7 linked regions of the Homo sapiens genome follow. The protein of the gene in region 2 interacts with the protein of the main gene of each other region in a pairwise test. Each region holds a gene or a part of one and is shown on either strand. Other genes may lie near its edges. The genes, in order: MACO1, NBPF19, NEDD9, RAB3IL1, DRD5, FTHL17 and MXI1.

What was found.
Region 1: the proteins of NBPF19 (region 2) and MACO1 interact in a two-hybrid assay, tested with the Homo sapiens proteins (one large-scale study listed by BioGRID).
Region 3: the proteins of NBPF19 (region 2) and NEDD9 interact in a two-hybrid assay, tested with the Homo sapiens proteins (one large-scale study listed by BioGRID).
Region 4: the proteins of NBPF19 (region 2) and RAB3IL1 interact in a two-hybrid assay, tested with the Homo sapiens proteins (one large-scale study listed by BioGRID).
Region 5: the proteins of NBPF19 (region 2) and DRD5 interact in a two-hybrid assay, tested with the Homo sapiens proteins (one large-scale study listed by BioGRID).
Region 6: the proteins of NBPF19 (region 2) and FTHL17 interact in a two-hybrid assay, tested with the Homo sapiens proteins (one large-scale study listed by BioGRID).
Region 7: the proteins of NBPF19 (region 2) and MXI1 interact in a two-hybrid assay, tested with the Homo sapiens proteins (one large-scale study listed by BioGRID).

What each region holds. Positions count from the first base shown.
Region 1 is NC_000001.11:25,458,397-25,461,896, reverse strand, and holds part of MACO1 (macoilin), read right to left. Parts: coding exon 3,005-3,500; intron 1-3,004. UniProt on the Homo sapiens protein: Plays a role in the regulation of neuronal activity.
Region 2 is NC_000001.11:149,548,045-149,551,544, reverse strand, and holds part of NBPF19 (NBPF family member NBPF19), read right to left. Parts: intron 3,396-3,500; coding exon 3,223-3,395; intron 2,509-3,222; coding exon 2,400-2,508; intron 1,771-2,399; coding exon 1,598-1,770; intron 879-1,597; coding exon 827-878; intron 219-826; coding exon 46-218; intron 1-45.
Region 3 is NC_000006.12:11,226,169-11,229,668, forward strand, and holds part of NEDD9 (enhancer of filamentation 1), read right to left. Parts: intron 1-3,500. UniProt on the Homo sapiens protein: Scaffolding protein which plays a central coordinating role for tyrosine-kinase-based signaling related to cell adhesion. As a focal adhesion protein, plays a role in embryonic fibroblast migration.
Region 4 is NC_000011.10:61,904,067-61,907,566, forward strand, and holds part of RAB3IL1 (guanine nucleotide exchange factor for Rab-3A), read right to left. Parts: coding exon 3,499-3,500; intron 3,405-3,498; coding exon 3,327-3,404; intron 3,037-3,326; coding exon of another isoform or gene 2,942-3,036; intron 2,619-2,941; coding exon 2,400-2,618; intron 817-2,399; coding exon 688-816; intron 593-687; coding exon 480-592; intron 1-479. UniProt on the Homo sapiens protein: Guanine nucleotide exchange factor (GEF) which may activate RAB3A, a GTPase that regulates synaptic vesicle exocytosis. Promotes the exchange of GDP to GTP, converting inactive GDP-bound Rab proteins into their active GTP-bound form.
Region 5 is NC_000004.12:9,780,322-9,784,433, reverse strand, and holds DRD5 (D(1B) dopamine receptor), read right to left. Parts: upstream 2,801-4,112; 5' UTR 2,405-2,800; coding exon 971-2,404; 3' UTR 425-970; downstream 1-424. UniProt on the Homo sapiens protein: Dopamine receptor whose activity is mediated by G proteins which activate adenylyl cyclase.
Region 6 is NC_000023.11:31,070,733-31,073,177, forward strand, and holds FTHL17 (ferritin heavy polypeptide-like 17), read right to left. Parts: upstream 1,310-2,445; 5' UTR 1,222-1,309; coding exon 670-1,221; 3' UTR 501-669; downstream 1-500.
Region 7 is NC_000010.11:110,280,605-110,284,104, reverse strand, and holds part of MXI1 (max-interacting protein 1), read right to left. Parts: intron 1-3,500. UniProt on the Homo sapiens protein: Transcriptional repressor. MXI1 binds with MAX to form a sequence-specific DNA-binding protein complex which recognizes the core sequence 5'-CAC[GA]TG-3'. MXI1 thus antagonizes MYC transcriptional activity by competing for MAX.

The sequences.
Region 1 (3,500 bases), about 120 Mb from region 2:
AGAAAAATGTGAAAATGTATGAAAATAAAAAGAAAAAATAAATGCCCAATACTATCAAGGGATAACAACTATTGTTAACAATTTGGTTATTTTCCCTTTAAATCATTTTTCTATGTATATTAGAAAAAATTGTTTTTCATTAAATTGCTTTCTCCTTTATTCATGAAATGCTTTGACATACTTCCCCATATTCTTTAATATGGCTTGAAAGTATGATTTTATAGTATCTATATGAAAAGTTTATCAAATGGATGGACCATAATTTATTTTAAATTTCTCCCATTATTGGATATTTACATCACCCTTTTTTTTGAGGGGGGGGAAGGAAGAGAACCAACATTTATTGAATGCCTGTACCTTAACAACAGCACTATTCTATTAGTTTTATCTCAACTTTCCAAGAAATGGAAATCAGAGGGGTCAAATAATATGCCCAAGGCCACTCAGACAGTAAATAGAAGGTCCAGGATCCAACCAAGGTGTGATTTAAAAACCTATATTCTTTGCATAGTATTCTTTATTTTATTTTATTATTATTATACTTTAAGTTTTAGGGTACATGTGCACAATGTGCAGGTTTGTTACATATGTATACACGTGCCATGTTGGTGTGCTGCACCCATTAACTCGTCATGTAGTATTAGGTGTATCTCCTAATGCTATCCCTCCCCCCTCCCCCCACCCCACAACAGTCCCCGGAGTGTGATGTTCCCCTTCCTGTGTCCATGTGTTCTCCTTGTTCAATTCCCACCTATGAGTGAAAACATGTGGTGTTTGGTTTTTTGTCCTTGCGATAGTTTGCTGAGAATGATGGTTTCCAGTTTCATCCATGTCCCTACAAAGGACATGAACTCTTCATTTTTTATGGCTGCATAGTATTCCATGGTGTATATGTGCCACATTTTCTTAATCCAGTCTATCGATCCCCTTATTTTTTATAACATTAAAAGTTGAAAATAATACCATGGGAGCTTATAAACCTACTTAAATATAATGTTGTCTATTAGTCATTTGATAGTAAGTAGTTCTCCAAAACAGAGTAATACCTGGGACACTGTAGGTCAAGGCAGAGTACGCATTAGTGACCACAAGAAGCAGCATACTCCTTAGGTGTAGGCACGGGGGCACTGGACCCATGTCATCATCTCCAGCTTACTGGACAATTAGCCATCTGGGTCCTTGAACTTCTCTACTAAAAGCAGATCAGATAGTAGAGTCAATCAATATCACAAACCATCATTTAGTAATAGCTTGACCGCTATTACTAAACTTGTGTCAGCCTGGGCAACATGGCGAGATCTCCTCTCTACAAAAAAATTAAAAAATTAGCCAGGCATAGTGGCATGCGCCTGTAGTCCCAGCTACACAGGAGGATGAGGTGGGAGGAAAACCTGAGCCTGGGGAGGTAGAGTCTACAGTTAGCTGTGATCACGCCACTACACTCAAGCCTGGGCAAAACAGTGAGATCCTATCTCAAAAAAAAAAAAAAACATGTGTAGGAGAAAGGATGGTAAATAGCTGTGACAGATGTTTTGTGTATAGCATTTAGTGAATTTGTGGGATATTCCTCTGAAATAGAAGGTAAACTAATTGGTCTTTCTCCCATGGGCATCTGGAGGAGAGTTCTCTTCCACGTGTTTTTTCTGCTGGGCACAATGGCCAGAATGTCCTAACAAATGGATATGGATGCCAGCCAGGCAACAGCAAATAGCACACTTCCAAAAGTAGCCTGGGGGCTGTGAAACCTCTAGAGCCTGTATTAGTAGAACCCAAATATACCTCGCTTAGTTTAACTGCCAATCAGAAAATTAAAACAAATTAATAATCTAGTTCATACCATTTATAATGCTGGAAAGCCTCCCTCCTAGAATAAACGGACTGCCTAAAGGGCTGCCTAAAGCAAGCCAGAGAAAGAAGAATATAACTTACTGGAAGGGGAGAGTTTCAATTGCCCTCTTGAGTTACATACACACAAAAAAGCTCCAGTTTAGATCTCAGTTTCCAAATTAAAGATCTGAGGTGAAAGGAACATATTTGTGTTTGCCTAACATAAGCCATATAAAATATAGTAAAATTAAGTCTGAGCCAGTCAATGTAATAAAACAATGTTATTCTTTTATGGCCGGGCACGGTGGCTCACATCTGTAATCCCAGGACTTTGGGAGGCCGAAGCAGGTGGATCACCTGAGGTCAGGAGTTTGAGACCAGCCTGGGCAACATGGTGAAATCCTGTCACTATTAAAAATACAAAAAAATTAGCCTGGCGTGGCGGCAAGCACCTATAATCCCAGTTAGTTGGGAGGCTGAGGCAGGAGAATCACTTGGAGCCAGGAGGCGGAGGTTGCAGTGAGCCGAGATCGTGCCAGCCTGGGCAATAGAGCAAGACTCCGTCTCAAAAAAAAAAAAAAATTCTTTTAATTAAAATGAGAAAAGCAACATTCCTAATTAAACTTTGTGTCTAACACTGTTTCTCCATGGATTTTTGTGAAAGAGATTGCTTTTCAAATCTAACTTTCCCAGAGTTATCTAGGATAATTCATATTCTAAGTGCAGAAAAACAAACAGAAAAACAAAACAAGCACAAAGTAGTAAGGACAACTTTCTCACCCCTCTCCTGCAATGTATATCTGTTTGACAGAGATTTGCGTGAACAAGCACAAACTCTTCTTTTTGTGTTTACGCCAAGAGAACTCTGGACATGCAAACAGAAAAGGACAAGGACCAAAGAAGTGCCTTACAACACGACTAGAAGAATCAAGTTACAGGTCAATTTGTCACATGTGGGAAGTAATCAGTGTCACTCATTATTCAGAACACTGCAAAGAGCTGAAATCAATGCTTCAACACAATAACACAAGGTGGCCAACAAACTCATGTAAAACACCACACGTCACTAGTCACAATATCTGATTACAAACAATCCCTACAGGCCCATATGGGAGTATGTCAAGAGTATGTCAAGTTTACTGGAAAGTGTTAGTAAGGATGCAGCATGTGCACTTACCTGACCAGTGCGTCTGGTTTGCTTAGCTGGTTATTAGGAATACAGTTTTCCATTAAGTCCTTGTGTGTACTTGGGCTCTTGCTAGTGCATTTCTGCTTCTTCTCATTTTTACTAGATGAGGAAGGAATGCTCCCATTTGTGGCGCTATGACTTCGAGGTGAAGAGTTCACAACTCCACTGGCATTTTTGTAATTTTTTGAGGAAGCAGTGCATGAGTCCTCTTTCAAGAGATTTTCTGTACTTCCCACAAGATCATTATTTAATCTTTTACTATTGATATGGTTTTCCATATACTCAATCTCTTGTATTTTAGAGTCTACAGGTTGTAGAATATTGTTGTTATTTATTCCAAGGTTGTGTTTTTTGGCATCCTTGTCCTTTTCTTTCCCTTTTTCTCGGTATTCTATCTCTGGCAAAGTTGTGGAGAGTTTTTTGTTGGCTGGGATACCTCCATTGTGGTGTATAAGGATCGAAGAATCCATATCAGGTAATCCTT
Region 2 (3,500 bases):
GGAAGACCAGGTGGAGGCTTATCACCTTCATAGTAAGGTACTCACTGTCCACGTCAAGAGCCAAGCCAAGGTACTGTTCCTCCAATGAGTAAACAGCACTGCTGTAGGGCTGGCCTAAGTCAGGCAGTTCAAGATAACCTGAAGGAGTCGAATAACATCTATCCAGTGGGTCCTGCAAGACTTCAGGCTCTTTCTCAGCCAGCAGCTCCCTGCTGAGCCTGGAAAAGTAGGAAAAAGTAAAGAATAAGCCAGGGGGAATCAGAAACCACACAGCCCCAGCTAGATTTCATGGCTAACATAAGGAACTGTTTAAAAAGAAAAAGGACAGATCCATTAATGAGGTAATGAATTATTGCCTTTATGTTGGGATAGACCAGGGCCAGGTAGAAAAGAATGAAAGAGAAAGACAGGGAGAGGGAGAGAGAGAGAGAGAGAGAGAGAGAGGAGAAAGTGAGCTCAGCGAGTTGGCCGGGTGACACACTGATGAAGGGGTCAAAGGACACTCTGAGTTAGTGCCCTCGGGACACACAGCGAACAGTGATCATGAAAAGAGTGGGCTCAATAATTTTCCATAAACTTGCTCAAGATTCCATGCAGTTGCCATACAGCCTTTGAGGTATGGTCAACCTATAGTAAGTTAGTAAATGTTAAGGGGAGGAAGAAATGGAAACCTAAACATCTACTGCAATGAAAACCAACAGCCATGTCAGTAGGAGTAATTCAACCTTCGTTGAAAACATGAAATTGAACACACTCTTGTTTTCCCTGGACCTGGCATCTCCAGGTGTCAACACAGAATTAAGCATCCATAATTGCTCAAAGTTACCTGGGGCATGATGGGTCTTGGTCTTCTTCCACTTCTTGGTACTTTTCAATTTCTGCAATAAGTTCAGACATGGACAGACATATGAAGCTGGTTCTCCTACACACATAACAATCCACTGTCTAATCCTCACACAGGGACTTCAGGCTCCTCAGCATGAGAATAGGACACTGTGAGAGATATTCTTCAGGAGGCCTGAAGGCTGATCACCATAGAGATTCCTTGGTTTTTGTCCCAGAAACTGTGGGTAAAATTCCCTATTCTGGTAGATCGTTATCCCAATATCATTTGTCCCAAGTTTGTGCAAATGGTTATGCCATATTTTTCCAATCGATTTAAAGCAAATACCCCCAAATGGTTGCTAGGAGAAAAACTGCACTATTCAGCCCTGTCTCATCAAATACTCAGATTGTTCATGGTAGCGAGGATTTTAGACGCTGAAATTAGAGTGAAGGATGAAATCTACAAGATCTACAAAATTGAGACAAAATCAGAGTTGTGTGAATTTGTCACATCTGCCCAGGTCCAGTGTCATGAGAGTAGGATTAGGGCTCCACAGGCATGGCCTGAGACTAGGGAGAGAGCCTTGCTCACTGACCCATCCCTTGTCTGGGCTGCCAAGTGGAACTAGAGTTTCATTCAACCTACATGTGCCTATAGGTCCTCCCTGTGGCAATGACATCTCTCAGCTCAGTAAGGGCCACTTGCAGTAGGAATATGACCCTAACCAGAAGACTCAGTGGATCCTTATCACCTTCATAGAAAGGTACTCACCATCCATGTCAACAGCCAAGCCAACACACTGTTGCTCCAATATGTAAAAGGCACTTCTGTAGGGCTGGCATGAGTCAGTCAGTTCAAGACAACCTGAAGGAGTTGAATAACATCTATCCAGTGAGTCCTGCAAGACTTCAGGCCCTTTCTCATCCAGCAGCTCCCTGCTGAGCCTGGAAAAGTGGGAAAAAGTAAAGAATAAGCCAGGGGGAATCAGAAACCACACAGCCCCAGCTAGATTTCATGGCTAACGTTAAGGAAGAGTTTGAAAAGAAAAAGGACAGATCCATTAATGAGGTAACAAATTATTGCCTTTATGTTGGGATAGAACAGGGCCAGGTAGAAAACAATGAAAGAGAAAGACAGAGAGAGAGAGAGAGACAGAGACAGAGAGAGAGACAGAGACAGAGACAGAGAGAAAGTGACCTAGTGAATTGGCCAGGTGACATACTGGTAAGGGAGTAAAAGGACACTCTGAGTTAGTGCCCTCATGACACACAGCAAACTGTGATCATGAAAAGAGTGAGCTCAATAGTTTTCCATAAAATATGCTCAAAATTCGATGCAGTGGCCATGAGAGTACAGCTTTTGAAGTATGGTCAACCTATGGTACGCTAGTAAATGATAAGGGGAGGAAGAAATGGAAACCTAAACATCTACTGCAATGAAAACCAACAGCAATGACAGTAGGAGTAATTCAGCCTTCGTTGAAAACATGACATCAAACACACTCTGGTTTCCCTGAATCTGTTGCCTCCAGGTGTTAACACAGAATTAAGCATCCACAATTGCTGAAAGTCACCTGGGGCATGGTGGGTTTTGATCTTCTTCCCCTTCTTTTCTTCCCCTTCTTCTTTCCTTCTTTGATCTTCTTCCCCTTCTTTTCTTCCCCTTCCCCTTCTTTTCAATTTCTGCAATAAATTCAGACATGGACAGACACATTAAGCTGATTCCCCTACACACATAACAATCCACTGTCTAATCCTCACACAGGGACCTCAGGCTCCTCAGCATAAGAATAGGACACTGTGAGAGATATATTTCAGGAGGCCTGAAGGCTGGTCATGATAGAAATTCCTCGGTTTTTCTCCCAGAAACTGTGGGTAAAATGTCCCTATTCTAGTAGATCGTTATCCCAATATCATTTGTCCCAAGTTTGTGCAAACAGTTATGCCATATTTTTCCAATCAATTTAAAGCAAATACCCTCAAATGATTTCTGGGAGAAAAACTGCAATATTTAGCCCTGTCTCATCAAATACTCAGATTGTTCATGGTTGTGAGGACTTTAGACACTGAAATTAGAGTGAAAAAGGAAATCTACAAACCCTTGAGTCAAAATCATAGTTCTCTGAATTTGTCACATCTGCCCAGGTCCAATGTCATGAGAGTAGAATCAGAGTGCCACAGGTATGGCCTGAGACTAGGAAGAGAGCCATGCTCACTGACCCATCCCATGTCTGGGCTTCCAGGTAGAACTAGAGTTTCATTCAACCTACATGTGCCTATAGGTCCTCACTGCGGCAATGACATCTCTCAGCTCAGTAATGGCCACTTGGAGCAGGAATATGATCTTTATATGGAAGACTCAGTGGATGCTTATCACCTTCATAGAAAGGTACTCACCTCCCACGTCAAGAGAAAAGCCAACATGTTTTTCCTCCAATGCATAAAAGGAACTTCCATAGGGCTGGCAGGAGTCAGGCTGTTCAAGACAACTGGAAGGAGTTGAATAACATCTATCCAGTGAGTCCTGCAAGACTTCAGGCTCTACTACCTCCAGCAGCTCCCTGCTGAGCCTGGAAAAGGAGGAAAAAGTAAAGAATAAGCCAGGGGAAATCACACACAACAGAGCCCCAACTAGGTTTCATGGGTAGCATAAGGAAGTGGTTAAGAAAGTAAAA
Region 3 (3,500 bases), on a different chromosome or scaffold from region 2:
GCCAGCAGGAATTACTGCAGAGAGATGGCTGGAATGTTCAAAGTAAATAAGATGGAGGGGGGTGTTGTTGGCAAAGTATAAACAGGGTTTTTTTTTGTGTGTGTGTGTCCCCTTTTCATGCCCGTACTCTTTGCAACCATCTATCACCTAGGAAACCGTCAGTTACTCTCTGGCATTTTAAGTTAGAAATATAGTATTTCTTCCCAATGGCCCTGTTTCATTTGTCTTGGCGAGAAGTCCTGGTAATTCAGCCTATATGTTCTTGCAGAGTATTGCCTTGGTCCTAGTGGTTGGCATTTCAAACCAATTTGTTCAGATTTCTTTCTGACCCTAAAATGATCTAAACATAGACAACCAAGACCTCTTACTTTACATTTATGTCATTCTAATTGACTGCAATTGGATAAGAGAGTTCACCCTGAACTTCTCATGTACTCCCAACTTACATTCTTTGGATTTTATCTTTGGTTTTTTGAATTGACGACTTTCTCTTCCTCACTGATATTTCTGTTATGGGTAAACAATTCTAGTGAATGTCTCCTTTAAACACTTTTATCTATATAAAAATTCCATATCTATATATCTGTATATCTTTGTGGGTATGTGTATATAACATCATATAATAGCTGCCATTTATTAAATGCCTAATATCTGCTAGAAAGGACAATTGTCATATATTATATCCTATAACTATCTGACAAGACAGGTATTATTCTCATTTGATAAATGAGGAAAAGAAGGTTTAAAGTAGCTAGCATAAAACTATACTGTTAGAAAGTAACAAAAGTGGGATCTGAAACAAAGCCCATGTTTTTTGTTGTTGTTGTTGTTTTTTTACTATGCCATATAGTATTAAGATCCTCTTAAATGGCTATTTGTGTATACATTTTGTCTTCTATGAGCAAAGTCTTGTAATTTCAGGAATACTGAGTCCAATGAACAATAATGAAGGAATCAAGTCATTAGTATATTAGCAAGTGGGGTCATATGCTGTTAGGGCCCTATGCTTACAATACACATCCAGGCCCACAGAATACTCAACAATATTCAACCATCTCAACCTAGTAACTGGGATTTTGACATAATTCTGTCACCAAGTCTTGAGTACATACCATCCTTTCAACATCTATTGAGCATCTACCATACAAAGAGAGCTGGAGCCAGCTTGCATTGTCTGCTTACTATATGCCAAGAGCCATAGTAAGTACTTCATTCATATATTATCCCAGGTCTTCGAATAGTATGAGGCAGTTATTCTTATCCCTATTTTACAGACAATGCTGTAAAATGAGGCTTAGAGAGCTTAACTTGCCTAAGGTCCAGAGCTATAAGCCATAAGGAACAGAAATGCCTTTCTTCAAAGCCCATGCTCTATCATGTCTCTAACACAAGAGCATAAAACACCAAGTCTTGGCCCCCTCAAAACTTCACAGACCCTAGATCATGTTTTTTATTCAAGGACTTTTCGATCAATCTGCCTCTACATACAAATAGAGGGTGGGTCTCTCATATTCAGTGGGGTTTACTTAAAACTAAACAGGCCCAGTAGGCAACCTATCTGAGTTACAGGTATCCTTTAGATAACGATTTGATTGAAAGAGGTCAATAAGTAAGGTAGTGCTAACAGAGTAGGGCAGAGGTGAAAAGCATAACAGCCTATTTTAGGGATTATAGGATGGTCCAGGAGACACAGGTTTCAGAGTTTGATTGTTTAAACAGAGTGGATGGATGAGGAGACTTTACTAGCGGGACTGACAGGCCACTCAAGTCATGTAAACGCAAACAGAGAGGCAGATGAATGGGGGCAGTGAGGGACCAAGATTTCCCATAGCAGAGTCTAAGGAGAAGGAAAAATGAGGGCTACAGAATGTGCATTAAAAGTGTCACATCTGTGTGTGGGAGGCAAGGGGGCGGCAGTAGATAGGTGCGGGTGGGGGGCTGGGGAGTAGGGGGTTGGAAGTAAGATCTACGGAAGTCAGTATTAAAGAAGCGTAAGGAAAGCCTGAAAAGAAGAAGAAGAAGATAAAAGGAGAACCAATGAGGTCATAAAAGCACGAAAGTGGGAGAGAATTTGCAAAAAGGCCGGGTGCGGTGGCTCACACCTGTAATCCCAGCACTTTGGGAGGCTGAGGCAGGTGGATCACCTGAGGTCAAGAGTTCGAGACCAGCCTGACCAACACAGTGAAACCCATCTCTACTAAAAATACAAAACTTATCCAGGCATGGTGGTGGGCACCTGTAATCCCAGCTACTCAGGAGGCCGAGACAGGAGAATCACTTGAACCCAGGAGGCAGAGGTCGCAGTGAGCTGAGGTGGCACCACTGCACTCCAGCCTGGGCGACAGAGTGAGACTTGATCTCAAAAAAAGAAAAAAAGAAAAGTGGAGAGGAAGGTGTTTTTTTCAGAAGACTGGAGTGAAGGGAGAGACAGGGAACCACTGAATTCTGAGAACAGGGACTGACGTGTATCCCAGCAAGGAAAGGATGCTAAAGGAATCCTTGGCATGTTACGCACTGTACAACTTGCTAAATTTGGTATTATCAGGCACCTTCAGTACTCTAAAGGCTTTTATCTCTGTGTAGGTAAGCCATTTAGCTCTGCAAATGGGTTTACTAAATAAATAAATAAATGCATAAATACATAAATAACCAAGTTGATATTTTTCAAAGCATGTTTTAGTGATTTTAAATCCATAGATCTCATACAAGGTTTAAAAAGGAAAAGGACAGGAGTCCTACATTTGGATTGGTTGCAAAAATCATACAGAGAAAAATAAAGCATTTTAAACCAAAATATCAAAGCAAGGAAATAATTGGGAATTTAATAGCTTATGCATGACCATATTGACTAAATTAAAGATCCTCTGTCATTATTTTCCTCGGTCTTGCTTGAGGAAATACGAATACTTTCAAAGTCCTTTCCAAAGCGTTTCACGGCACACAGGTTCTCCTTTCCCTGACCTACCCCATTCAACCAGAACACAGGACTCTGACTTTCAGAATGCACCTTTCTTAATGGCATTGTAAGTTCCGTCTGTAATTTTTCTTCAGTCAAAACGTTAAAGAATGAATTTGTTGCATGGTAGACGAGATAAATAATTTAGAATTTTAATGTAGGCACGTAAGGGCTCAGAAATTTGGCAAAGCCACAAAAGCGTCTCTGCTCAGCCATTAGCAGCCAGGCCAAGGGGCCGCTGAGCCCCCGCCCGGGCTGGGCCTGAGGTGGGCGGGGCCTCGGGCCTGGCAGGCACAAACGGGGTGGGGTCTCGGGGGCTTCTGCTCAAACACAGCTGCGCAGAGACCCTTCCATCACCCTCCTGGGAAACAGCACAACCATACACCTCCAGACCCTCAGGAGGGAGCCTTCACTGGGTAAGCAAACCAAGGCCATCGAGGCAATCACCTAACCCCGCCAGCCCCCGCCCAATTAAGAACATGCTCTGTATATGAAGGGGATTTTGTAGAAAATTCTTAATAAATGAAGCCCCCGTAATTTACTA
Region 4 (3,500 bases), on a different chromosome or scaffold from region 2:
GGCTCAAATGCTCCCTCTCCGTGATGAGCCTCCCACCAGGGCACCAGCCATCCCCAGCCAGGCTCTTGGCTGCCAAGGTGAAATCCTCCCCAATTTCTGCCCCTTGCTCCACCCTGGCTATTTTGTTCTGCTGCTCCCCTGCTCAATGCCAGGTGAGTAGCTGGAGGACAAATGCCAGGGCTACTGCGTCGTTATTTATTGGCAGGGGCACAGCCAGCAACTGATAATCATGGTTCAAGAAAAGAAGGGGAGGGCACAGAGCAGACCAGTCAGGAAGAGGCAGACCCTAGCTCCCGGCCTCTCTGGAAAGCCTGGGGGTCCACAGGAAACCTGCCAAACTGCCTCCTTGCCCTGTGGGGGCAGCAACTGTCCCTGTCCTGTCGGCGCTGCTGCATCCTGACCACCCCTCGGCACAGTAAACACACGGCTTGGCGGGGCTTTCCCACATGGGCAGGAAGGAGCTAAGACCCTCAGCTTACTTGGTGCTGCTACAGTCAACCTCGGCCACCTTCACTGTGGGCAGCGTCTGCGAAGCCACCGGCTCAATGGTGAGCGTGTTGTCCTCCACGGCGGCCCGTACCAGCACCGAGAGCTGTGGCAGACCAGGGAGGCAGGCAGGGTGGTAAGGGGCTGGGCCCTGGCGGAGGGGTGTGTCCCCCAGCTGGCCCCGCCCCTGCCATGCCTCACCTCCTGCATTGTGAAGTCCAGGCAGGGGCCCACGTCCTCTCGGTACACCCTTTCCAGGAAGGGGCAGGTCTTGTCCAGGGTGGGGGATTCCCTCCAGGCCTGGAACTCTGCAAACAGGATTGTGTCCACCTGTGGGGGAGGGCAAGCGAGGGTGGGGGCGGTCAGGGTACTGGGGCCAGCATAGAAGATGCAGGCTGAGCTGAAGGGGAGCGAGGGAGGACGTGGGGCAGGCCCAGCAAGCCAGCAGGTCGATCCCCAGCAGCCGTGCAGGGAAGCCAAGTCCAGCAGCAGCAGAGCTCCCTTCTGCCCTTTGCACCAAAGAATTTAGAACTAAAAGTTTTGTTTCCAGGCCGGTGTTAAATTTCTTGGCGCTACTGGATTTTAGAGTGGGGTGCAGGGCTTTGTCCTGAAGACCCTCAGTGCCTCCTTGAGGAGGAAAAGTCAAAGAGCAACTAGCAGGAGGCCACAGGTACCAGCAGGTACACAAGCACACACAAGCACGTGCACACAGGAGGGGACACACACAGGCTGCCCTGGGCCCACACCTCAGAGGTGACTGCTGGCCTGCTCCAGGCCACATGCAGAATGAGGGAGGCTGGGAGGGGGCAAAGTGGGAGGCCCCTCTTTGGAGCCATTTACCTGTCGGGAAAAGGAGGGAGAGGGAGTGGAGGCAGGGGCTGGGGGCTCCCCAGGTGGGAGCGGCCAGGCCGGCTCGTAGGTGAGGTGAACCGCCTTGCTGGGGACCACGCAGAGGAGCAGGGAGAGCAGCGGGGCCAGCCCGGGCTGGGCCGGATGGACAGACAGACAGACAGACAGACAGGTAGACAGGTGCACAGAGACAGAACAGGAGGAAGGGGAGAAGTTAATGTACATTCAGAAGCTCAGAGCTCAGGAGGTGGATGAGGGCCTGCTCGTCTTCCCTGGAGGCCCTGGAGACAGAGGTGGAAGCCAGGATGGAGTCGAGTGGGCTGGCGCCAGGGACCCAGGAAGCTGAAGGCACCACAGCCCTCTGAGGCACTACCTGGGTGCAGCCTTGAACTCAGCTCTTGATGTCCCTGTCTCTGGTTCCTCCAGCAGCCCCGGGAGGCCCCATTTATCAGGTGAGAAAGCTGAGGTGCTGACAGGTGGCCTCATTTGCCTACAGACCCATGACCATGAGTGTCAGCCCAGCCTGGGCCCAGCAACTGGTGTGGCCAGCTGAGGTGGGACGGAGACACCTCTCCAAAGGCCACGCTTGTCTCAGCCCCACAGTCAGAGGGTGCCAGAAACCCCTTGAGCACAGGGCTGTCACCAGGTGGTCCTGGGGCTCGAGGCTGTGGCCACACGGGGTCCAGGCAGCCTCTCCCCTGAGGCCCAGTGGCTGCTGCTTGGCCTCTTAAGGCCAAGGAAGTGTGTGTCTCAGTGGAGGCCCCAGATCCTCAGGGCCAAAGCCAGCCTCAGGTGCAGAGACCACTACCTACTGCTTGGAGTCAGTGGGGCAGGGAGGGGGCCTCAGGTCCCCAGATGGTATACCCTGGAGGCTGCAGGCCAAGTGCCTCAGATCACAGGAGGTTGGAGAGAAAGGACCTGCCCAGCCCTCACATCCCAGAGAGGCGCAGGACAGGCTCCAGGTCACACAGCATGGGGCAGGCTGGTCCTCACTGGGCTCGGACCCTGCCTACCGCAGGCACTGCCACCCTTCCCCGTGCCCAGAGCCCGCTTCCCACCCTCACCTCCTTGCCCTCTCTGTCTGGGGTGAGGGTGTGTCCCGCAGCGGGACACACGGCGGGGCAGAGGGTGCTGCTGGTGCTCTTGTGGCGAGAGTGGCCCTTTCGGGGCCCGGCCTTGGTGGGGCTCAGCAGCTGGGGGTGAAGCTCGCGGTTGGGAGAGGCTGGTGTGGACGTGATGACCAGCGTCTTCAAGGCTGTCACCTCTGCCTGCAGCATGTCGATCTGCATGGGATGGGATGGCTGTCAACCCTCACCCAGACTGGATGCCATCCTGGCTGCCACCGCCTATCAGCCTAACTCAGGACAATGCACCCCTGCAGTGACAGGCACTTAGTCCCACCCGACGCCCTCAGAACAGCCTTCGAGGCAGAGACCCAGACACTCGTTTTACACATAGGGAAACTGAGGCTCACAGAGGCGACATGGCCTGCCCAAGGTCACTCTGTGAGCAGGATTCTGTTAGGAACAAGTGTCTGGGAGCTGGCTGGGCCTCCCATGAGAGTTCTGGGACCGCCCCCAGGAGCCAGGAAAGGCCCAGGCCTCACATTTTGCAGATGGGCAACCAGGCTTGGAGAGAGGAAGCGACTTGCCCAGGCTCAGACAGCCATACTGAGTGAGGTTTCTGCTTTGTAAAGTGGGGCTGGGAGGAGAGGGAAGAAGGTACAATAATCACAGGGTCCTCCCAGCCCCAGCACTATCCCAGAAAAGGCTCTGCCATGCAGCAGAATCACTGATGGAGCCCCGGGACACTGGGCCCTGTGATCTCAGACCCCCACCCTTCCCTTCCCTCCCTGGGCCTAGGTTCACCCATTCCTGCTGGCCCCACCGGGCCAGGTGAGCGTCCACTCGGGCAGCAAAGCTCAGTGCTCGCTGAGCCGGGAGGCAGGGGGGGTGCCTGGGCTGGCCTGGGCAGGCGGGGATGGGCCTCACCTTGCCCCGAGCCTCCTTCAGCTGCTTTTCTGATGCCGCCTGCTTCATGTTGGCTTCTCGAACCATCTTGTGAGCTTCCTAGGAAGAAGGCAGTCCCTGCGTGAGTGGTGAGGAGCCAACGGACGCCCAGATGACCCATTCCCCAAGTTGTTCCCGCGCCCAGCCGGTGTACCT
Region 5 (4,112 bases), on a different chromosome or scaffold from region 2:
ATGTCATTCTAAAACATGCTACAGTTGTCAGATGGAGAAAGATTCAAGATATTATTCTACATGATCTTTTCAATGAACTGATCGCATCTGTCTAGGAATAAGGAGAGTTGTCTTATGTTACTTCAAAAAAGATTCCATATGAGAAAAAAAACATCTGGTCTTGAGAAGATCTAATGCCATGCCATTGAAGCCAGGTTTCAGCACAGACCCAACATGGGTATAAGTAATAAAAAGAAACCTGAGAAAACAGAAGCTCCTCAAGGTCCTTTGCCCTGGTGTATCTTTAAGGCCAAACTGTAAAGAGATTAAGCATGTACTTCCAGACCCAGCAAATATCTTCTTTGCATTTTAAGGATGCACTCATCGTTTCTTCAGAAGCAATCCTGAAACCCAATGTAGCAAAGCAAAGATAGTCACCCCATAATACAAATAATCTGTGTTTATTAGACACCAGAATAAATCAGGGATACTTCTTAAGCTATGGTAAAGAGGCCCCCACCAGCACAGAGAGAAGAAATGACATAAGCACAAAGCCACGGGAATCCAGACCCAGGAAAGCTGTGCTCCCACCACATCACTGCACACACACACAACCTGCTGTTTAAAAATCAATTCAAACACAAACAAGTGACTGAACAAGCCATTTGTTTAAAAAGGGAGGGGAGAGCATATTTTTTAAGGACCAAGTATCATTTTTTTTTTTAAGGACCCAGCACCATACTCTCTTCTCTCATAGGATCGTTGGTCCATCTCTGGTAGGCTGGGTACATTTGACTGAGTTTATTGCAACTGCTTCTGCCAATTCTTCGAACTACCAATCAATGGGGTGAGGTTTCTAAGCACACGAGCTACTACACAGAAACACATGATAAAGGGAGCAGCACTGGAAAGGCATGTATTTGCGTGTGTGTGCGTGCTTGTCAATGTCTGTGCGGTTATGCAGATCCATGAGGGGGTTTCTTAATGCAGTTTAATGGAATCCATTCGGGGTGAAAGGTGTTATTTTGTCTAAAGAAATCTCCCCCTCGCAGTCCAGCTCCCAGACAGACTCAGCAACAGGGTCACCATCTGGGGACGTCTGATAGATCTGGAACATGCGATCGAAAGGACCCTCCTCCTCGTCGTTGTCCACCTCCCGGTTGCCGGGGGTAACGGCGTTGGGCATCATGTGGATGTAGGCAGCTGCGATTTCCTTGTGGAAGACGATGTCTTGGTTGTAGGAGATGAGCTCATTGCTGATGTTCACCGTCTCCACCGGCGTGCGGGAGCAGAAGTGGCTGCACCCCAGCAGCTGGGCAAACACCTTCTGAAAGTCGGCGTTGAAGGCATAGATGACGGGGTTGAGTGAGGAGTTAGCCCAGCCGAACCAGACGAAGACGTCGAAGGTGGTCTCACTGACGCAGGGGAAGCCGGCCGGAGGGCCTTCGGGGTGTCCACTGCAGAAAGGGACCATGCAGTTAAGGATGAAGAAGGGCAGCCAGCAACACACGAAGACCCCCATGATCACCGACAGGGTCTTGAGAACCTTGGTCTCCTTCTTGATGGAAGCGCGCAGGCTGGTGTCGGGCGCGCAGGCTGCGCTGCTCCGGCAGCTCTGCGCGTGCTCTGCGGCCCTCTCCAGGGAGGAAATCCTGCGGATCTGCACCTGGGCGATGCGGTAGATGCGCGTGTAGGTCACGATCATGATGGCAACGGGGATGTAGAAGCTGATGAGCGAGGAAGAGATGGCGTAGGTTCGATTCAGGCTGGAGTCACAGTTCTCTGCATTCACGTCGGGCTCCCAAAAGTCCTCCTCCCAGGGCGTCCAGTTGGCCAGGTTGTTTGGCAGGTCCAGCCCGCCCCAAGAGGCCGCCTGGTCCCTGTGCCAGTTGAGCTGGACCGGAATGAAGGAGATGAGGATGGACAAGGTCCATGCCAGGCCGACCATGACCAAGGCCATGCGCTGAGTCATCTTGCGCTTGTAGCGGAAGGGCCTGGAGATGGCCCAGTAGCGGTCCACGCTGATGACGCACAGGTTCAGGATGGAGGCAGTGGAGCACATGATGTCGAAGGCCACCCAGACGTCGCAGAACGCTCCAAAGGGCCAGTAACCGGCCACCTCGGCGACTGCCTTCCAGGGCATGACCAGCAGCGCCACGAAAAGGTCTGACACGGCCAGAGACACGATGAAGACGTTGGTCATGTTGGCGCGCAGGTGGCGGCTCCGCACGATGGCTGCGCACACCAGCACGTTGCCCAGCAGGGTCCAGATGATGAGTAGGGTCAGCAGGCAGGCGGTGACCACCTGTGAGGGCCCCAGTGGCGGTGCCCCCGCCGAGCCCCCCACGGCGTTCCCCTGCGCCAGCTGCTGGTATAGAGCGAACTGCCCCGGGTACGCGGTGCCGTTGCTGCCTGGCGGCAGCATTTCGGGCTGGACTGCAGGGGCGGTCTGTGCGCGGTCCCAACTTCAGCCCTGCGACCCCCAGGCAGCCCCATCGGGCACCCCGAGGATGCGCCCCCTCAGCCAAGGGACCCTCGAGCCCCAGAGGGCGCTCACCATGAGCTGCGCCGGGCTGCGGAGCGCGCGGGGACTTCTCTTGCCTCCTGAAGCGCCTCTGGCTCCATGGCCGTGGTGCGCCCCTCCAGTCTCCGCGATGGGGACAGGAAGCGGCTGGTGCTCGCTGACAGCCAGGGCTGTTCTCGGGAGTCTGTAGCGCGCCGGACGGCAGCGGCAGCGGCTGTGTCTGGTTCGGAGCGAGAGAAGAGAGCAAGCCGCCACTGAGGGGCTGGGGCAGGCAGTCGCGGGCGCCAGGCTGGCACTGAGGCGCTGCCGCGGTCCCTGGCCGCTCCCAGGCCCCGCGTCCCGCCCCCCGAGCCTCCGCGCTCGACTCCCGCCCCACCTGTGCCTTGGCGCCCTCGCTCACCGCCCTCAGCGCGCCAGAGTGTAGGGGCGATCCCGCAGGTCCGAGGGGCGCCCCAGCGCCAGACCCTAGTCCCCGGGCCGGGGAAAATTCTCCCCGGGAAAACCGAAGGGTGCTTGGCGCATCCCTGGAGCCTTAGCCCTGGCCACGCTTGGGGAACAAGAGGTGGGGTAAGGATGAGGACGCGAGGGCTTCCGGAGGGGGAAAGAGCATTTGAAGGGTAAGCGGGGCAGCCTTGGATTACCCACAGACCCGAGTCCCAATCCGGACTTTATTCCTGGCTCTGCGACTTTAAGGGCCCTACATAACTTTACCCGGCCTTGGTTTCCTTCTCCACAGCGTGGGATAATGATTCCTACTCCTGGGACAGTGTCAGAACTCATGGAAGCCGTCTAGGATGAGGTGTCCAGTAGACAGTGTCTCCTAGGAACAGGCTCCCGCTTCCCCCAGCCCCTCTCTCAACACCCTGAGGCTGGGGCTTCAGCTGACCTCTTGGGAGATTGTCCTTTTCCCCACCACCGCCCCCAGTCCTTGAACGATTTTTCCTTTGGGGAATAATTCGGAATGAACTCAGAAGACAAGAGGAGGAAGAGAGCCCCCCACCCCCATAGAGTTGGAGGCCTCTTCTTTGCAGGGCACTTTTACAGCCTTTCTCTTTTTCAACCTTGAGAGGGATGGATAAATAGCTCAGTGTTTAACAGAAAAGGAACTGACGGGGCCCAAAACCCAAACTGAAAAAAAAGAATGATGGAAAACAATAAAGAGGGAAAACAGTGTTCCTGAGCTCTGAGTGCACCTCCCAGCTGACAAGTTGCATTTGTGAAGTGTTTCGGCCTCTACTGGCGTTAAGCTCAGCTGAAGGCAGCTGGGAGAGAAAGGGATGTGACAGCAGCCAGCTGCATAGCTCCGGCTGCGACCTGCTGGCCCAGACACCTGCAGCATGGTGAGGTCTAGAAACAGACTGGACTTTCTCCTCCCTTCCTAGTCTCCCCCTCCACCAAACGCACCTGTACCCTGGACCAACATCTGCAAGTGGCCCACCTTCTCAGACTTAAGCTGCTCAGCCTACACAGTCCCTTCCCCCAACCTCCTTCCCCCTCAGTGCTTTTTGCCGCTGGAGAGGGCAAGACCATCTGTCCAGGTGCCTAAACCTGAAACTGAAGGGCCATCCTCACCTCTGGTCTCTCCTCATCTTCTGGGAGCTGGACCACT
Region 6 (2,445 bases), on a different chromosome or scaffold from region 2:
AGGCTCCCACTACAACTGTCACCCAAAGTGAGCTTGCCAAAGAAGTACCCTGCTGTGCTGTCACCCAGAGCCCCCACTTGCTACTCAGAATCCACAAACATTAACATTGGCATATTTTAATAAACTACAAGTTTTCATGTAAAGTTGAAGACCCTTTGTTTATTTTAATCCTTGCCCAATCCCATTTCCTTCACTTCTTCCCCAGAGGCAACCACTATGATGAATTCCAGACCACGTTTTACACTTTACCGTGCCCATGCACCCACAGCCACCAGGGCCCAAGAGTGACCACCCCACCCCATCCCACCCCACATACCCTGGTAGTTTACAAAGGGAAGACTAATGTGTTTTCCAGGGGCCCATAAAATACCATTCCACTCCACCCCTGCAAATCCTGAGCTGCATGCAGATGGGGCAGGGGTGGGTGGAGAGACTGCTGGATACCTACTTTAAACCTGCATGGGGATTTGCCCTGATTCCTAAAAGGTGAGAGTTGCAGGTGTATCAAATGGACACCTTTATTGCTTTGAGAACCAGATAACTTTTTTGCTAACAATGGTAAAACTGAAAGATAAAACTGAAGAGAACGTTCTGAAAGGGCAACATGCACGCCCCGCCTAGTGGCCTGACCCAGGGAAGGGACCCCGTGGCTGTGGGGCCCATCTGGGCTCAAGTCTCTTTGACGCGGCCGCCCAGGGTGAGCTTGTCGAACAGGTACTCAGCCAGGCCGGCTTCCGGGGAACAAATCTTGCGCAGGTTGCTCACGTAGCCACCCAGCTCTTTGATGGTCTTGACTTGCTCGTGCAGGTAGTGGCTCTCCAGGAAGTGGCACAGCTGGGGGTCGCCCTTCTCCACGGCCAGCTGGTACAGATCCAGCAGGCTCTGGTTGACGTTCTTCTCCAGGTGGAAGGCGGACTCCATGGCCACGAGCCCGCTCTCCCAGCCTTGGCACTCTGGCTTCCTGATATCGTGAAGGCAGATGTGGCCACCGCGCAGGTTCTGCAGCCTCATCAGCTTCTGGGCATGCTCCATTTTGTCGTCCGACAGGCGCAGGAAGTAGCGGAAGAAGTTCTCCAGGGCCACGTCGTCCCGGTTGAAGTAGAAGGCCATAGACAGGTACAGGTAGGAGGTGTAGAGCTCCAGCGTGATGTGGCTGTTGATGGCGGCGTCGCAGTTGGTGTCGTACTTCTGGCGCACCTGCGACGGCTGGGCGGTGGCCATGGCGGGCAGCGCAAGTGCAGGCGAGCACACGGGCGAAGTCGGTGCGGTAGCGAGGGCAGCAGCTGAGGTGACAAGAATGGCGGATAGTGAAAGGCGGGTGTGCGATGAAACCGGAAGTGGGCAGTGGAAGTGGGCAGTGGCGACCGTTAGGGAGGAGCGCGCTCTGTCGGTGGGGGGAGGGGCGGCGGGGGACAGAGTTGCGGGGCAAGGGGGTGGGGGCACAAGCGCTGACTTCCGTCGGAAATCCCGGCCACTTGGCGCTGAATGTTTCAAGACCATCTTTTAAAAATAACTGCTCTAGGCCGGGCACGGTAGCTCACGCGTGTAATCCCAGCACTTTGGGAGGCCGGGGCGGGCGGATCACGAGGTCAGGACATGGAGACCAACCTGACCAACATGGTGAAACCCCGTCTCTACTAAAAATACAAAAAAAATTAGCCAGGCATGCTGGCGCGCGCACCTGTAGTCCCAGCTACTCGGGAGGCTGAGGCAGGAGAATTGCTTGAACCCAAGAGGCGGAGGTTGCAGTGAGCTGGGATTGTGCCGTTACACGCCAGCCTGGGCAACAGAGCAAGACTTGTGTCAAACAACAACAACAAACTGCACTATTGAGATACAATTCCTCTGCCATAAAATTCACCCTCTGAAACATTTCCATGGTTTTTAGTATATTCATGAAGTTGTGTAACTATCACCCCATCACCAAAAATCTAATTTCAGAACGTTTTCCTTATTCCAAAATGAAATCCCCTACCCATGAGTAGTTACTGCCCATCTCGCCTTCCTCACTGGCCCGACAACCACAAATGAAATCTCTGTTTCTAGAGATTTGCTTACTCTGGACATTTCAAATAAATCATACTATATGCGGCCTTTATATGGCCTCTTTCATTTAGCATAATGTCTTTAACTTTTGTCTTTTTTATGGCTGAATTATATTTCATTGTATGGATATACCACATTTTATTTACTCATTCATCAGTCGATGGGCATTTGAGTTGTTTCCATTTTGTGACTATTATGACTAATGCAGCTATGAGGATTTTTATAATAGACATATGTTTTCAACTCCCTTGGGTATATACCTGGGACTAGAATTGCTGGGTCATATGTTAAGACTCTGTTTAACATTTTGAGGAACTGCTAGACTGTTTTCCAAAGTCCCCTCATCATTTTACATGCCCACTAACAATGTATGAAGGTTCCAACACTGTCATTGTCTTT
Region 7 (3,500 bases), on a different chromosome or scaffold from region 2:
AATAGATAATGTTGCTGGACGCAGTGGCTCACGTCCGTAATCCCAGCACTTTGGGAGGCTAAGGCAGGAAGATCACTTGAGTGCAGGAGTTTGAGACAAGCCTGGGTAACAAAGTGAGACCTCATTTCTACCAAAAAAAACACAACAACACAAAAATTAGCTGGGTATAGTGGGTGATCCAGTAGTCCCAGCTACTCGGGAGGCCAAGGTGGGAGGATCACTCTTGAGCCCAGGAGGTTGAGGCTGCAGTGTGCCAAGGTCTCACCACTGCACTTCAGCCTGTGTGACAGAGTGAGACCCTGTCTCTTAAAAATAAAAAAAAAAATCTTAATTGTTAAATACTAGATATTCAATCATCAATAATATACATAAATCAATACACATGTTAAAAACAAAAAGGAGTTAAAAAGTTGTTTTCTCCCATCAGAGCTAGAGTGAAACCCAGGATTTTTCAGTTACCTTACTTAAATTCAAAGCCTGATGTTTCACATTTGGCACTGACTTTTTAAGGGTTCACACTAATCACAACTGCTTTAAAAAAAAAAAAAAAGTGGATTCAGCCGGGTGCGGCCAAGCACTTTGGGAGGCTGAGGCAGGTGGATCACGAGGTCAGGAGTTCAAGACCAGCCTGACCAATATGGTGAAACCCCGTGTCTAGGCTAAAAATAGAAAAATTAGCTGGGCATGGTGGCACGCGCCTATAGTCCCAGCTACTTGGGAGGCTGACGCAGCAGAAACACTTGAACTTAGGAGGCAGAGGTTGCAGTGAGCCAAGATCACGCCACTGCACTCCAGCCTAGGCGACAGAGCGAGACACTCTCTCTCAAAAAAAAAAAAAAAGTGGATTCTTGTGAGGCCAAAAGGACAGGGTGAAGCTATTTCCAGGAATATACTTTTCAAAAGGGCTTGTTGCTTCAAAAGTTTTAGAGATTCTAGAGATGTTTTTAAAATGTAGGCAGCTGTCCAAATAATCTGTGAATTCATATATTGGCTCTATATCCGAATTGCTTCAGAAGCCATTGTTTCCCAGCACCACTGAACACTCATCCAACCTACAACTAGAAGATAATAACAAGGCACACTATCCAAAAGAGCATGCTGAACTCAGTCAAAATAAAGTAAAATGATGGCCAACACAGTGGCTCACACCTATAATCCCAGCACTTTGGGAAGCCAAGGCAGGAGGATTGCTTGAGCCCAGGAGTTTGAGACCACTTGGGCAACAAGGCCCATCTCTATTTTAATAAAATTTAAAAATATGTTTAAAAAAATTTTTTAAAAACCCAAAAAAACAAAGTAAAATGAGAAACTGCTTTAGCCAAGTGTACCACAGATGTTAACTAAAAGCCCCCATAACACTACAAAAAGGAGGTTGCCAGCTCAGGATAAGGATGGTACTTGGTAAGGTACCGCTAAAGTAAGGTACACTGGGAACACTAAAAAAAAATGAGAGCTATAGTGATGAAAATACACCCTCCTCTCTGAAATTTGGAGGTAGTTGGGGTGGGTACAAGGAGGAGGTAACAGGAAGGACAGCTAAAACCTAAAGACCTAAGAAGAGGTTTCCGCTAGTTAGCAATAGAGGAAAGACTGGGACACCAAGGTCAGGGTTATTTCTGCTATATTTCACTGTTACTGATAAATGTAGCATGTACTTCAGGTTCTTGCTACTGCCTCTGGTAGACTTTTCTTGAAAACTGCCACACAAAAATAAACTTTTACATAGAAAAATAACAAAACAGAAAAACAAGAACTCCTAGGGTTGTGTTAAAAAGGTTGCGTTAAAAAGGATGAAAAAACTATTTAAAAGGCTCCTACTCAGCAAATCTGGGACAGTTTGAGCATTCAAAAGAATTTAAAAGGATGACTGCAATGGATTGGAACACATTCAGTACAGCAAAACATGAGTTCATGATATAATCAAAAAATAGTAAAACCAAAACTTGTTACTTCTGGAAGCTGCTAGGTTACCAACTCTGTTTGGAAAACTGATAAAGCAAAAACCAAGACCAAGCATTTATCCCACCTTCCCTGTATGAACTTTATTTCAGGATAACCGAAAAGTTGATGAGAAAATGTTTATAGGAGAAAAACAGTTTATAAATACAAGAGGAATGACACAATTAGAAAATCACTATTTTATGACACCCAATGAAATAAGGGCAATAATTGCTAAAACTGTTAAGTTAAAGGCTATACATTTATATAAATGTATTAAAATGACCTTACCTGAACCTATTGATTAATATTAAAAGTGCAACAACAACTACACACAATACTGACATAACAGGAAGTACAAAGCACCACCTATGAAGTATTCTGCATCTACCAACCAGTTTACAGTCAATATAAAGGACATAACATGTTAAATGACACCATGAGGATTCAACCAGCCAAATCTAGGATGTAGGAAATTCTATAAGAAAAATGACTCAGTCTCTTGATGTTTAAAAAAATATGTACATATATACAACACACAGATCTATACCTATATATTCCTTCATGTTTTCTCTGCCAAAGAAGTCTTTTTGAGATGTTATGTAGAAATCAGTTTTTGTTTCTACCAAAACGGTGTAGGGGGAAGAGAAAAAATTATTATAGATTAATATCTTAAAAGGCACATCAAACAAATGCAATGTGGCCTTTGGATCCTGATTTAAACATACCAATGGTAAAATGCCATTTTTGAGACAACTGGAGAAAATGTATCACAGACTGGGTATTAGATGATATTAAAAAAGATTATCTGAATTAATTTTGTGGGGTATTATAATAGCATTATAATTACATTTTTAAAAATCCTATTTATTCAAGATACATACTAAAGTATTTAGGGGCAAAATGATGTTATCTGGGATTTGAGTTAAAGCATTCCAGAAAAAATATTGAGGGTGAGCGTAGTGAAGAACAGATGAAACAAGTTGACAGCTATTCAAACTGAATGGTGGGTATACAGGAGTTCATTATTCTATTCTAAGTATGTTTGAAAATTTCCACTTAAAAAAGTCAAAAACAAAAAACAAAATCAGAGTCCTAAAAACAAACAAACAAAAAAACTCTGTCACTTGTCTCATGTTTTAGAATCCTAAAGAGCTCATGAGCTCCTTTCTCCAAATGTAAGACTTCAAATCACCAGTGTTCACCTCTGGGATCTTTTAATGTGATATGAAGCCTGATGTGGTGGAAGCTTTGGGAAGAACAATCAGTAAAATTCAAACCATTCTTTTTTGGTTGACTTCTGTTCTTTAACTCTGTCAAAGATAAATATTCTAGGATAGATGGAAAGAGAAATAAAGGGTGTTGTACTTTAAAATCTACATATAAAAATTCACATCACCAGTAGTAAAAACTTCGACATCGTGTATCTTCCTGACACAATGGATTGAGAAAGGCACAACATCATTTCTTTTCTTTTTTTTTTTTTTGAGACGGAACCTCACTCTGTTGCCCAGGCTGGAGCGCAGTGGCATGATCTCGGCTCACTGCAAGCTCCGCCTCCC